2 linked regions of the Homo sapiens genome follow. The protein of the gene in region 1 interacts with the protein of each later gene in a biochemical or structural test. Each region holds a gene or a part of one and is shown on either strand. Other genes may lie near its edges.

What was found. The genes of interacting proteins can lie anywhere in the genome.
Region 2: the proteins of ITPR3 (region 1) and TRPC1 form a complex in vitro, tested with the Homo sapiens proteins (one study listed by BioGRID).

Annotation. Positions count from the first base shown.
Region 1 is NC_000006.12:33,692,114-33,697,062, reverse strand, and holds the end of ITPR3 (inositol 1,4,5-trisphosphate-gated calcium channel ITPR3), read right to left. Parts: intron 4,336-4,949; coding exon 4,170-4,335; intron 3,519-4,169; coding exon 3,358-3,518; intron 2,140-3,357; coding exon 1,978-2,139; intron 1,352-1,977; coding exon 1,283-1,351; 3' UTR 501-1,282; downstream 1-500.
Region 2 is NC_000003.12:142,775,204-142,784,411, forward strand, and holds part of TRPC1 (short transient receptor potential channel 1), read left to right. Parts: intron 1-2,428; coding exon 2,429-2,560; intron 2,561-5,630; coding exon 5,631-5,826; intron 5,827-9,208. UniProt on the Homo sapiens protein: Forms a receptor-activated non-selective calcium permeant cation channel. Forms a heteromeric ion channel with TRPC4 or TRPC5 that has reduced calcium permeability compared to the homomeric TRPC4 or TRPC5 channel.

The DNA.
Region 1 (4,949 bases):
TTGGCCAAGCGGGGCCTCAGCTGCAGTTGGCTTCAGCACTGTGGGCAGGTTCTGTAGGTGGCCACAAGTCAGAGGCCCTGCTGGCTGAGGACACACACAGGGTCACCTCATTATTCCATGGAACCTTGGCTCTTACTGATATTGAGCATCCTTCTCTCTGGAACCGTGAGGGACAGGGCTGGGCCCACAGCGGCCCTGGTGGGTACAAAGTGGAAGTGGGTTCTTAACCTCGTCTGTGTCTAGACTCCTCAGGATGTTCTGAAATGCATAAAATAAAATCGACAGGACTGCCGTAGAAACCAGTTATGCCGAAATGCAGTTCTGGGTAGGCAAATCTCAGGGGAGGACCCTTGAGACAGGATGTCACTCAGCGTATCTCCTGAGAGCCTGAGAGGCCAGGCCAGCAGGGAGGGGCTCTTGTTCCTGTCTTCTGCCAGTGTGTCCTGTTAATCCCCACAGCCCCCGGGGGAGTGCAGGAAACACATCCCTTTTTAACGGACTAGATTTCTATTAATTTATTTAAGGCAATTAACATATTAGTTCTCAGGCCAAAGGATTTGTAAAACATTACACCAAAAGGAGAAAAACAAGCGGTCATGAAACAGCCACGCAAGCGCAGCTCAGCCCTTGTTGCCTGGGCGTACAACTCTTCCCCAGGAAGCCTGGGAAGAGGCAGGTCCTGGGAGCAAGATCGTCCATCATGGAGTCACCAGGCCACCTGGAGCCATGCCGGGGGTGGCATGGACACGACAGTGAGGTCTGCACTGGCTACAGCAGATCTGAGGCACGGAGGGAGCTGCACAGCCATGGGCAGGGCTGAGCACAGCACCCTTGAAATAAGTTAAATAACAAAGCCCTAAAATCACTAGTAACAGCATAACTGCCACCTCCCCCAGAGGCCGGCAGCCGCCAAAATGTAGTGCTTGGAGTTAAAGGGGTGACCCCACTCTTAACTACCCACAAGGAGGACTACAAAGAGTTGTCAGTTATTGCTTTAAGGAACAAAGGTCTCTAGGTAGGATTTATCTTCTGCTAAGGCATTAAGGTAAACTGAGTCCCAGTGAACTTTCAAGTCTTTTTAAGGGCTCTAAGCAGGACTGTCAGCTCTGAGGCTCCCCCTCCATGCTCTTCAAAGCCTGGGTGGGTGTCAGGGTGTCTGGCAGAGTGGGAGTGGAGGCTGGCCAGCTGGCTGGGCCACCCAACCCGAGGGAGGGGGCAGTGTTCTTCCCAGTCGCAGTCTCCAGTGATGAGCATCCCCTGTTGGGGCCTTCGGTGGCTCTCCTCAGCGGCTAATGCAGTTCTGGACATCCACAAAGCCTAGGCGTTGCCTGCGTTTCCGCTGCTCCGTCATCTAGGGTTAAGCAGATGCCAACAGGCCTGGTCAGGCCGCCTGGCACCTTCCCTCCATGGGTGCTGTGGAAGAGCTTGGCACCCGTCTTCCCCTGTGGGCCCAGCTGCTATTCGGCACTGGCGGCGGGCCAGGGCCCCTCGGGGTGCTTTAAGGATGTCGATGTCAGCACCAAACCCTTGTTCTCAATTAGCGTGTCACAAACCCTGGATTTGATGCAGCTGGGAAACCAGCCCACTAACAGAGGCTGCCTCATCTTCATGCAGGCACTGCCAGATGCAGAAGAGGATGTCTAGGCAAGAGGGCCTTAAACTCCCCCATCTCCAGTGATGGGGATCCCCTCAAAGGACCTACCTGGCAGCTGTCAGAGGAAGGGGATGAGAGACAGAGGGCCCCACCACCCTGTACTAAAGTTTCCACTTGGCCTTGTCTTTAGCGGCCCAAGGCAGGGGTTGTCAACCCCAGTCTGACTTGCCATGCAGGGGAGAGTGGGTTTGGCACCTGCCTTCTCATCCAGGCCCAGGGCCAGAGGCCAGTGGGGAAGAGGGTGGGTCAGGAAGGATGAAGGCAGGCAGGGACTGCCCAGGGATAGAACCCAGGGTGGGCCTGGGATCAGGCGGGGTGCACACCTGCTCCTTGAGCTCGTTGAGCTGGGCAGTGAGGTGGGACACCAGCTTCATGGTGGAGTTGAGCTTGTCCTGGAGAATCCGAATCTCATTCTGCTCCCCCTCGCCCTCATTGCTGACAAGGGACATGGCCCGCATCCGGGGGAACCAGTCCAGGTTCTTGTTCTGAAAAACATCACCAGTGGGTTAAGCAGGCGTGGGCCCGGCCTAGAAAGGCCTCATTTAGAAAAACAGTAATGTGGGGGGAGGCTTCTGCCACACCCTTAACAAAACTACTCGTCAGGGATGTGTCATGGGAAAATCTGAATTGACCTGGTCCTCCCCGGGGCCAGAGTGAGCTGGCAGTCAACCCTCTTGTCAACCCTCTGCCACCGAGACAGGCTGACTTCCGTTAGGCAGCGTCGGCAGCTGAGTTTGAGTCCTTTGCTGGTATCAGCACCATCTGTTTACTCTCATAACACCCCCTGAGAGGTGGAGGAAGGCCTCTGCACCCAGACAGACCCTGGATCTCCTTCCTTCCTTCCTCCCGCCCGCCTGCCTGACAAGCACGCCCCACGCCCCGGGAAGACGCGAGTCAGACAGATGGCAAATTGAGGGATCAGGAGGCTCCGCTGAGGAGAGCTGGCATCTGACACGTGTCTGGGAGGCAAAGCCACGTTTCCCAGGACAGAGGAGTCGGGGGGGGAGGGGGCACCAAGCAATTCTCAGCTTCCTTGTAGTAAGCTGTGAATTCTCAGACCAACAGATAAACCTGTACACAAAGATCAGTTTGAAATACAGACTAAACGATAAATAATTCCTTCTTTATGATTCATTGCCTTCACTCCATTATTACAGAAATTGGACAGATGACATTTGATTTCTGTAAGTGATTTTTAAAGTTTTTCCAGGCTCCCCTTCAGCCCAGGATCATCTAATTCAGACTTTTTAGGAAGCAGCCTGCCTTCCCACCGAGCTAGAAAACACTCCCTGAGAGCGGCCCACAGATCACTGGCCACGGGCAGGGTCTCCCCAACTCCACCCCTCCTCAGCATCACTGCACGACAGGCCCAGGGATACCACACGTGTTCTTCGGGGCGCATGGGTTTGCTGTGGGATTTTTCCTGACACCCAGAAGTGTGAGGAGGCCCCTCTGCAGCAGCGGCTTCCGTGCAGCCCAGAGCTGCTTCCAGCTGCTGCTCCTCGCCCTGCTGACCTTTCAACAAGTGTCTGCAGCTGTCCGAGCCCCTCTGCCTGGCCTCCTAGGGCCAACAGTCAGATAGGGCCACTCCTCTCCAGGGCCCAGGGTACTCAGAAGCTAAAACCATGAGGCCTCTGGTGCACAGTGATGACTCTAGAATGGCTGGTTTGGGCCCACAGGCCTGGCACAGCCCCTGCTCACACCTTGATCATCTGGGCCACGTAGCTCTCAGGGCCCGTGTAGTCGGTCTTGTTCTTCACGCGGACCAGCACAATGAAGTACAAGTAGTTCCACATGTTGTGCTCCAGCTTGATGTGTTCCTCAAATGACACTGTCTTGTTATCAAACTTGTCCCTCTCCAGACCTGAGGGTGCAGAGGGCGGGAATGAAACCATCAGCCTTCAAGAGCCACTGCAGGGTCACCTGCTGGAGGGGACCCAGCTTCCGGGGGTTGGAGGCATTTGTTCTCGGGATGAGCGCTTCCAACAGCTCGCTCTGGGCTATTTGGGTCACTTCTATTTAAAGCAGCAGCCACTTAGTGGAGATCCTGCCCTGCCGCAGCTGCAGCCCTCCCGCAGCAGCAACCGAGGACTCCAGGAGTAAACGCGAGAATTTCTCGAACTCAGGGGAAGCCCGAATGGCTGAATGAGCGAGGTCCTACAGGCCATACAGGTGACACCTGCCTGAGCCCGAGGTGGCTGGTGAGGGGACTAGCACTTCATTTCAGGGGTAGGAAAAGCACTGGACTGAGACCAGAAGCTCCAGACACTGACTGGGCTCATGTCCTCACCTAGAAACCCCAAGGGTTTACAGGGATGGGCCTGTCCCACTCCTTTCTGACTCCAAGTTCAGGCAGGGTCATGTTCTCCCCAGTTCTGGGATGAGCAAATGCATCAAGTCATCAGCTCCGGGCCAGGGTTCCCCAGGGCAGGAAGGGCCAAACCGCTACTGCCACTGGCATCAGATGACGTTCCAGCCCCGCTGCGGCCTCCACAGAGCAGGAAGCAGCCCTCACCACAGATGAAGCATGTCGTCTTAAGAATCTCCTCCTTCTTCTGCTTCTCACTACGCAGGTCAGCGAAGGTGTCGATGATTACCCCAAAGATGAGGTTCAGCACAATGATGATGACGATGAAGAAGAACAGGAGGTCATAGACCACTCGGGCTGGGAAGAGAGACTCCTGCAGGGGATGAGGCAGGGAGGCTGGGCCCGGTGGTCCCCACATTCACTGGGGCAAGATAGGACTCAGGTTGGGGCCAGGGCTGTGATATTGAGGACCCAGCCCCTAGCAGAAGGAAATGAGGGCCTCTGGCCTGGGGGCCATCAGATGGCAGAGTGGACCCAACCTGGCTCCACAGAGCAAGAATTGCAAGCAGAAGCCCTGAGTTTGGGTTAGGAAAGCGTGGACTCAGGACACGCCGGGGTGGAGGCCTGCAGAAGGAGTCTGGCGGGGAGGTAGGGCTACGAGTCTCGGTGTGTCTCTGCCCCTAACATTGATGAGGGAAAGAGGCAGCTCTGAACACCTCTGCCCACCCTCAGGACGCCTGGCCTCACACATTCCAGAAACCCTCTGTCTGGCCAGGGAGGCGGCCTCTCACTCCCAAGCAACAGGGGAAGGCCTGACATTCGGGAATGTGGCTGCCCAAGCCAAATCATGAGGCCTCCTGATAAAGCTGACTCAGCTCCGCCCTCTGCCCACCTGCTGTGGGCTAGGAAAGCCAGTGGTCACCATCCCTAGCCCTGGGGCAAAGTTTGGTTGCCAAAGTCTTTCCTTATGGAATGGGAGGGTGAGGG
Region 2 (9,208 bases), on another chromosome or scaffold:
CTTTTGTATCTAAGTAAGACATTAAACCTATAAGCTAAATAAGGACTATATCAATAAACTTGTTTAAATGAAGATTTGGAATTTCCGTATAGAAAAATTCATTACAACAAAGTAGAAAGATAAACAACAAACTGGATTAAAAGTATTTAAGTCGCCTGTAATCCCAGCACTTTGGGAGGCCGAGGTGGGTGGATCACTTGAGCCTAGGAGTTCAAGACCAGCCTGGGCAATATGGCAAAACCCCGTCTTTACTAAAAATACAAAAATTAGCCAGGTGTGGTGGCACGCACCTGTAATCCCAGCTACTTAGGAGGCTGAGGCAGGAGCATTGCTTGAACCCAGGAGGCGGAGGCTGCAGTGAGCAAAAGTTGCGCTGCTGCACTCCAGCCTGGTTAACTGAATGAGAGTGTCTCAAAAAAAAAAAGTATTTGAATCACTTTTGATTGGACAGTAGGCTAATTTCTTTGATATGTAGAAATCTTACAAATTGACTAAAAGCAGGATAAATAATCATTACAAAAAATGGGCCAAAGAATATGAACAGGCAAGTTACAGAGGAAGAAGTATAAATGAATATTAAACATGAAAAGATGCTCAGGCATCTAAAGAAATTCATTTTAAACCACCTATAAAATCCTATTTTCTGTTAGATTGAAATAGTAATACCCAGTATTAATGAAGCTGATGGAGAAAATGAGCTCTCCTTGTTATTATTGCTTTGGAAACATCTATCAGAATTTAAAATACAAATGCCATATTCCCTAGAAATTGAAAGTACACAAAAGATATGCAAACTGAAGAATATTCATTGCTGCATTTTTTATAGCAGAAAAAAATTAGAAGCCACCTAAATGTTCATTAATGGAGAGCTTATAGACCTCCGTCCAGTTGTATGAGATGAATCTGTATATGGTAACACAGAAAGAGATTCATGATATGTTACACTTTTTAAAAAGCAAGCTGTTCCTTTATTATGTCTGATTATGTTCGTGTGTGAGTAGAAAATATCAGGGAGGACATGCACAATTCTCTGTAAAATGACGAGTTTTGAGGATTGCAGTTGGGAGGTGATGGGAGGACATGGATGAGGGAGTATCATGTTTCCAAATTGCTTACCTTATGTTTTATAATAAGCATGTATTTAAATTTATATTAAAAGAAAAATATAATATCTACTAAATTTGTAAATTAAGAATTATATTAATAAATGAACTATAGCAAATTTTTCTGGTTTGTTTTCTATTTAGGTATGGAAATTTGAATATTAATTTATAGATGGCAAAGGGAGTGCTTTTTTACATTACAGACTGTGCATAAGTAAATGATTTCACTCTTAAGATTTGAAACATCTTTCAAACTCATAACCTGAATGAATGAAAAATGTATTATATATATTGAGCATATTAAAATATTTTTATGGTCTGGGCGCGGTGGCTCACGCCTGTAATCCCAGCACTTTGGGAGGCCGAGGTGGCTGGATCACAAGGTCAGGAGATCGAGACGATCCTGGCCAACATGGTGAAACCCCGTCTCTACTAAAAATACAAAAATTAGCCAGGCGTGGTGGCACATGCCTGTAATCCCAGCTACTTGGGAGGCTGAGGCAGGAGAATCACTTGAACCAGGGAGTCGGAGGTTGCGGTGAGCCGAGATCGTGCCATTGCACTCCGGTCTGGTGACAGAGTGAGACTCCATCTCAAAAAAAAAAGAAAAAAAAAGTATTTTTATTACTGAGAGAGAAAGAAAAGATTTATTAGTCATCAAATCCACATCATATTAAAAATTTATGTTATTAGCATATTTTATTTAAAATTATGTTGGGTTCAAACCAGGCACAGTGGCTCACACCTGTAATCCCAGCACTTTGGGAGGCCAAGATGGGAGGATAACTTGAGGCCAGGAGCTTAAGACTAGCTGGGCCACATAGCATGACCCTGTCTCTATAAAAATTTTAAAAATTAGCCTGGTGTAGTGGCATGCACCTGTAATCACAAGGCTGAAGTGGGAGGATCCCTTGGCCCAGGTGTTCGAGACTAAGGCAAGCTGTGATCACTCCACTGCACTCTGGCCTGGGTGACAGAGCGAGACCCTGTCTTTTAAGTTAAAAAAAAGTTGGTCCAGAAATATGAATTTAATTAAACTGGATTAAACAAAAATCTTTATATTATACCAAAGGCATTTTGAATCTATGAAAAGAGACAGTAAAAAAATTTTCTAAAAAGCAATAGATAGCAAGGTTTTTCAATATTTATATCTCAAAATATTTGTTTTAAGTCTTTTTATGGAGGTTATCTTGTAATAAATATATCTGTAGTTTTTCTTTTAATTTTATAATATTTTAAGTATACATTTATGAAAATTATAGATTAAAATACGAATTATATGTGTATAAGTTTATTTTACATTATGGAATCCAATTTTATCACAGGTTTCGTCTTGATATATATCGATGTTTGGCCAGTCCAGCTCTAATAATGTTAACAGAGGAGGATCCAATTCTGAGAGCATTTGAACTTAGTGCTGATTTAAAAGAACTAAGTCTTGTGGAGGTGGAATTCAGGTGGGAATGAATGCAAATTATATAATGTATTTTGTTTTAAATCTTCAACCTCAGTTTCTTCATTACCCAAATTATAATTTGTATATATTTACATTTGATCCAAGAACACTACACCTTGTTGCCACTTACTTGGCAACAGACCCCTGCTCTCCCTCAAAGGAACAGACCCTGGTGCTACTTAAGTCATTCCTTCCCCATCTGCCCTCTGCCACCCTATAAACACCTTTAATCTCTTCCCCACTTTTCAACCTAACCAAAGGCATTGTAGAGCAGTATGAAATACAGTAGGATTATAGCCTAAAGCAGGAGCAAATTTATTCATAGTTGCTCTCTCTCTCACACATATCTCCTCATTCTCTGACTCTATAATCATCCTTGAGTAATGATCCTTCAGATCTTTCAAAAGCATATGGAATGCTTTCTGTATGTCAAGGACATTCCACACACAGACATAGTCCCTTTTCACTATTTGCTCAGATTTTCTGGTAAGAGAAATAATATATGTAATACATGTAAACATAAAAATAAAATACAACTAATTAAGAGGGATGAACACCCAGTCTGAGTTCTCTTCTGAAATGAAGATTAAATGTAATTTTGGCACTTGGCATACCAAAGAAGCACTCCTATTATTTTCCTTTAGGGGGGTAAGTTGAAAAAAAAAAAGACTTTGTAATAGCAGCCTATGAAACTACTAATTTAAATATTGTTTTTAAAAAAATCCTTAGAAAACTACTTTTATTAATAGTAGAGTTGAGAGAAAGCGTTGAGATTTTCCTTTATGGAAAAGTATCCCTGTTGCCCTCTAAAGAAGGAGGAATTGATTACGATTTTTTACTAGCCCCTGTTGCAAGGTTTCTACTGGGGATCTATAACTATTCCTACCTTTTCTTTCCTATACGGCTGCTATTAGAGCCCCATGTCTTGTGTGACACTCTTTCAGTGACTTGACAAAATTGGGAAAGTTCAAATTTCTACTTCCTGGAAGGGCAGTAAGAAACTTGGAGTTTTCTTTAGCTTTAACAGCAGTACTTAATGTGTTCTTCATAGACCTGAGTTCCAGAAACTGAAAAAAGACCTGTTTATATTTTCAAGTTTGGAACTACTGTCTTGTAACTTGGATAATTTAAATTTTGTTTAAACTTGATATGACATGAAGTATGTACTTTACTTTGATGAACACACAAAACATGGTTCAAATGTAACTTGTTGCTACTTTTAACTTTATTAGCACATGAGGCTGTTAAATTATTCTGTTTAAATATGAAAAACTTCCTATTGTAACCTCATAATTTGAGTCTGAGTTATATAAAATAAAACTTACTCAACTCCTTTCAAACAGGATTTGAAGAAACTGCTATGATTATATAATCATAAAATAATAAAGTTAGATTTGGAAGCGATCATAGAAACCCATTTACTTCAATCCAGTGTTTTATAGACAGGGGAGGAGATTTATAAAGGCTAGATTTTTACTAATAGCAGCATCTAATTAGGAATAGAGTTAAAACTAAAAGTAGGAGCAAAGTTATAACTAGAATATATGACTCCTTGCTTCTGGTTTTCTATATTTCCATCTAAACTATACAGCCACTTATTTGTCTTCAGTAATCTATTAGAAATGAATTAGATTAATAAGATGTATAAATTTCACCTTTGAATCTCGTAGTCCATCAAATGTTTATCCAAAGATGGAATATTTTTGTAATAATATATACTTCTGATAAACATTCCAGTCTGCAGTTAGATTCCTAAATCAAGAAGCAGGGAGTGCCGCATTTGTTAAATAAATCCAATTACTTATTTTCAGGAGTTTTGACTACATAGAATGTATAAAGAATGATGAGAGAAATTAAGGCAAAGAAGTTTTTATTCTTAAGTTATGATTTTTATATAGCCAGTTCCTGGAAAGCCCCATTATATAGAAAGACTAACCAGTGGGAAATCTTCCTGTTTCCCCTTCCTTTCAGTTTGGGAAAAAACTGAATAAAAACATTATTTTCTGAAGCCCAACCTCAAGACTATGACTCATAATTATTTATTTCTGACTTCATTCTTAAGTTATGATTAAGCTTAGACATAAAGTTAATGTAATTGATTTTTTTTTTTTTTTTTTTTTGGAGACCCAGGCTGGAGGGCAGTGGCACCATTTTGGCTCACTGCAACCTCCCCTCCTGGGTTCAAGCAATTCTCCCTGCCTCAGCCTCCTGAGTAGCTGGGATTACAGGCACCTGCCACCATGCCTGACTAATTTTTGTATTTTTTAGTAGAGACAGGGTTTTGCCATGTTGGCCAGGCTGGTCTTGAACTCCTGACCTCAGGTGATCACCCGCCTTGGCCTCCCAAAGTGCTGGCATTACAGGCCTGAGCCACCGCACCCAGCCGTAATTGATATTTTTTAAAAGAATTATATACTAAAACTTCTTCATTTCTCACAAATTAGTTTAGGCCTGCCTTTAATAAGCAGTTCAAACCCAAGATTCAAGGAATAGGGATTCTGAAAGAGAGGTTTTTGTTAGGCGCATTTTAATATCTTTCTTTCTAATTTGAATTTCACTCAAATGAGCACTTTAAATATGAATCAAAATGCTATTTTAATATTAGAAGTAACATAAACATATTGTAGATGACTATTGAAAAAGCTCTAGTTAAAAATTTTATGATAATGATTGGATAGCATTAAGATATTATGTCTATTGTTAAGGTGAGTAATATAAAAGGAAGTTTTAGCCAAGCTTACAGAGAATAAGGGAAAATGAGTTAAGCGAAGAACTGGTTGACAAATATTATTAGAATTTTTAGGAATAACATCAGTATATATAAATGAACACTGTGCTCATCTAAGATTATTAGTATGAACACAGGGAACATAATTGTGTTATGGTTTTCCCCAAAGCTGTGGAAAATTCGTGCATCACTAGTTTCCTTTGATTATCCACAGAAAATGACTTCAGATTTTGTGTAACACTGTCAGAATTAAAATGTTGCTGAGTAAAAACGTTTTTAGTGAATATAGCTTAATTAGAAGATGGAAACGACGTTTCTGATAATAGAATGCTGCATTTTATAGGAATGATTATGAGGAACTAGCCCGGCAATGTAAAATGTTTGCTAAGGATTTACTTGCACAAGCCCGGAATTCTCGTGAATTGGAAGTTATTCTAAACCATACGTCTAGTGACGAGCCTCTTGACAAACGGGGATTATTAGAAGAAAGAATGAATTTAAGTCGTCTAAAACTTGCTATCAAATATAACCAGAAAGAGGTATGAGGCTTTCTGTAATATATTTAAATTATTTTCTCTACAGTAGTCTAGTGGCTCAGGGCAAAGGCTTTGGAGTAACTCATCTGGGTTAAGATCCTAGTTCTGCTTCCTAAAAATTGTGTGTCTTGGGATAGTTATTGAATCTGTTTGAGCTTTTGTTTTAATAATTAATTAAGAATATATACTAAAAGGGTTTAGCACAGTAAGTATTAGCATTAAGCAAGTATGCAATAAATGGTAGTTTTTATTATTTTTAGTAATATTGATTATAATTATAACATGGATGTTGATTTAATGTTTTTGCTAAATAGTTGCTACACAGGTAAGATCCTTTGTAGTAGGTACAAACTTTATAGTGAAGTTTCCATCTTGTGTTTTGTCTGTCACAGGTTGGTTTTCATTGATCTGGTTATAAATAGCCCCTTCTATAGTAATAGTGATTTCTATTTAAAAATAAAGTATCAGATACTATATTTCCTGATTCCTCTTATTTATAATTCATTGTGAAACTCAAAAGTGGAGAGGTACATGATATGATAACTAAGTTGAATCTGACTTTTCTGGCATCATCCCTTTCTATTAAGAGATATGCCCATTTCTACTCCCCATGCATACATATACATATGATCCAGGAACTTGAATCAGGAAAATATGCATTTTAAATTTCATTTTTGAGATAATTAACTAAACAGTGATATTCATATGTAGATAATAATAATATCTAATTGATAGTATGGGATGTTGATAAATGGTATTTATTAGGTATTACTTCTAAGACTATTTTCATTGTTAACATAGATGTTTAAATAAAACTTGCTTATCAAATTTATATTATTACAAAAATAGGGCCTGAAATATATAATGATAGAAGGCCAGATACAGGACCTTTGGTGCTAAGGGCAGAATTTTTTCTTACCTTGGTTAAAAATTTGAGCCTCACAAAGTTATTAGGAAATTGATGGAGGAATTGATGGAGGATGTTTATTGGTTAATATATTTGCTTCTGTGTTCCACAACCTAAAAGGGACATGAAGTCCTAGAAAATGATAGAATAAGGGGATTACATGGTATAAAATCAATTAAAGTGATTTAAAAAAAGAACCTCAAAGAAAGGCGTAAAGAACTAAAATTATCCTGTTTAGGAAAAAAAATCTTAAGAGGTAATTTTCTAATGATAGCTATATCCCTGAAGGACTCACAGAGTGGAGTCCAAATGGAACCAAATGTACCATTCTAAAGAAGATGAAAGAAAAGACAAGAAGTAGTAGTAATATTTGTTAGTTGAAAGGAAGATATTTTGCGATTTTAAAGATGAATGAAAATGTAAAGTAGTTTTTAAAACTAGATTTCTAAATACGATCAGTGGGGAAGATATTTTCTCAAATAGTTGGTAAGCTTTGTTTAGGTTATCAATCTTGAATAGCAAACTACTCTGAAACTTAGTGGCATAAAACACTTCATAGTTATTTTATAATAATTTCATAATCATTTTATTATGCTCTTGGATTCTTAGGTCAGGAATTAGGAAAGGGCATGGCAATCATGATTTTTCTCTGCTTCTCCGTGTCTGGGAACTCATCTGGAGATAAATGACAGGGCTATAATCAGCTGGGGGCTTCTCCACTCACATGTCTGGTGTCTGAGCAGCAGCTGAGGCCTCAGGAACAGGGTGCTCAGATGGGTGAGTCCACAGAAGGTGGGGCTCCTGAGAACTCACAACAGGAACCAAGGAGAGGCATGGCCATCACAATGGGCAGACTTTGAGGATGTGGTCTGAGAAGCCTCTGCGGGCTGGCTGGGGTACATACATGTGACCTCTGTGTGCAGCCTGGGCTTCCTCACAGCATGGTGGCTTCAGAGTGGCTTTTTACATGGTAGTTCATGGCTCCAAGAGCAGGTGTTCCAGTGAGCAAGGTGGAAGATGCGTAGCCTTTTAGGACCTACCTTCAGAAGTCACATAGCATCACCTCTGTTAGAATCTACTAGTTAAATCAATCACAAGCCTGTTGAATTGAAGAGTAGGAAATTTTGACTTCCTCCTTCCCCACCTCTTGATGATGGGAAGAAAGCGTGTCCATCTTTCACTGCAGACTTAGAACATTTCTAGTTAAACTTTTTATTCCAAATACATAGTTAACATTACTGCAAATTAAATTGTCATTGTATAGAGGGATAGCAAGGACAGTAATCAGTCCTGAGATTGCTTTGATATTTGGAGGAAAGGTGACACTACTAAATTTGAGATTTACTAAACCTGGTCATTGGTGAGAGGAAAAGCTGTTTCTCTCCCAGGCATTTCACCTTGAGGGACAAATTAAGATTTCCCAAGAACATTGGAATCTGAGCAGAAGAGTAAAGAATGAAGTATTGCCAAAAATAAGTATTTGCATATAACATACACACATCTTCCCATATACTTTAAAGTATCTTTCAATTACTTATAACACCTAATACAGTGCCTACACATCATTTCATTCATGTGGATTCAACATAGTACTTGCTGTGAAGAATATTCAAGTTTTGCTTATTTGGAACTTTGTGAATTTTTTCTTCCAAATATTGTTGATCCATGGTTGGTTTAATCCACAGATGTAGGACACAGAGATACAGAGGGCCAACTCTACAGTATACTAGAAATTTTCTTGAAAGCACAATAAACAACAAAACTCTGTCCAATTCTTTTTTTCACTACAGTGTTAATTCTACAAATTATATTCTGTTTTGGGATAAATCATTTTAAAACAGAAGGTTGACCAAATATTATTGTGGATTACCTGAATAATGTCATTTTATAATAATTTCAAACCTGATCACATGAGTATATATAGAATTATCAGGACCCTTAAGTTATACTTCACAACATGAGCATTATATTGGAAAAATATTGCCTATGAAATTTGTCAACTAAGAAGATTTGTAAACTTTGGTAAATTAGTTTCTGTACCTGAACTAAAATTTTTCTCATATTTGGGAATATTTTTCCTTTCTTCTCACATGAAATTCAGTTTTAATCAGGCTTAAGAGTGTCTTTAATACCTTTTAAGAAATCCGCAGTGCTTTCTTGGAGCAAGAATAGGTCTAATATTTAGCTTTTTATTGTTTTTGCTATCTTGACTTCTTGGCTTCTGGTAACTAAAATCAATAGTTTCTCTAGACTGAAGATGTCCAACATTAGTTAGTGGTATCTTTTTCTATGGATTGTGCATGATAACTTTGAAATTTCATAAATATTATTATGAGTTTTTATATATTAAACATGAAAAAATGGCTAAGTAAGCTAATAATAATAGTTAATACTTATAGAGTGCATGCTATGAACCAGGCGCTATTCTGAGGGCTTTACCTTTAATCTTCACAACTTTATTAGTAGATACTATTATTA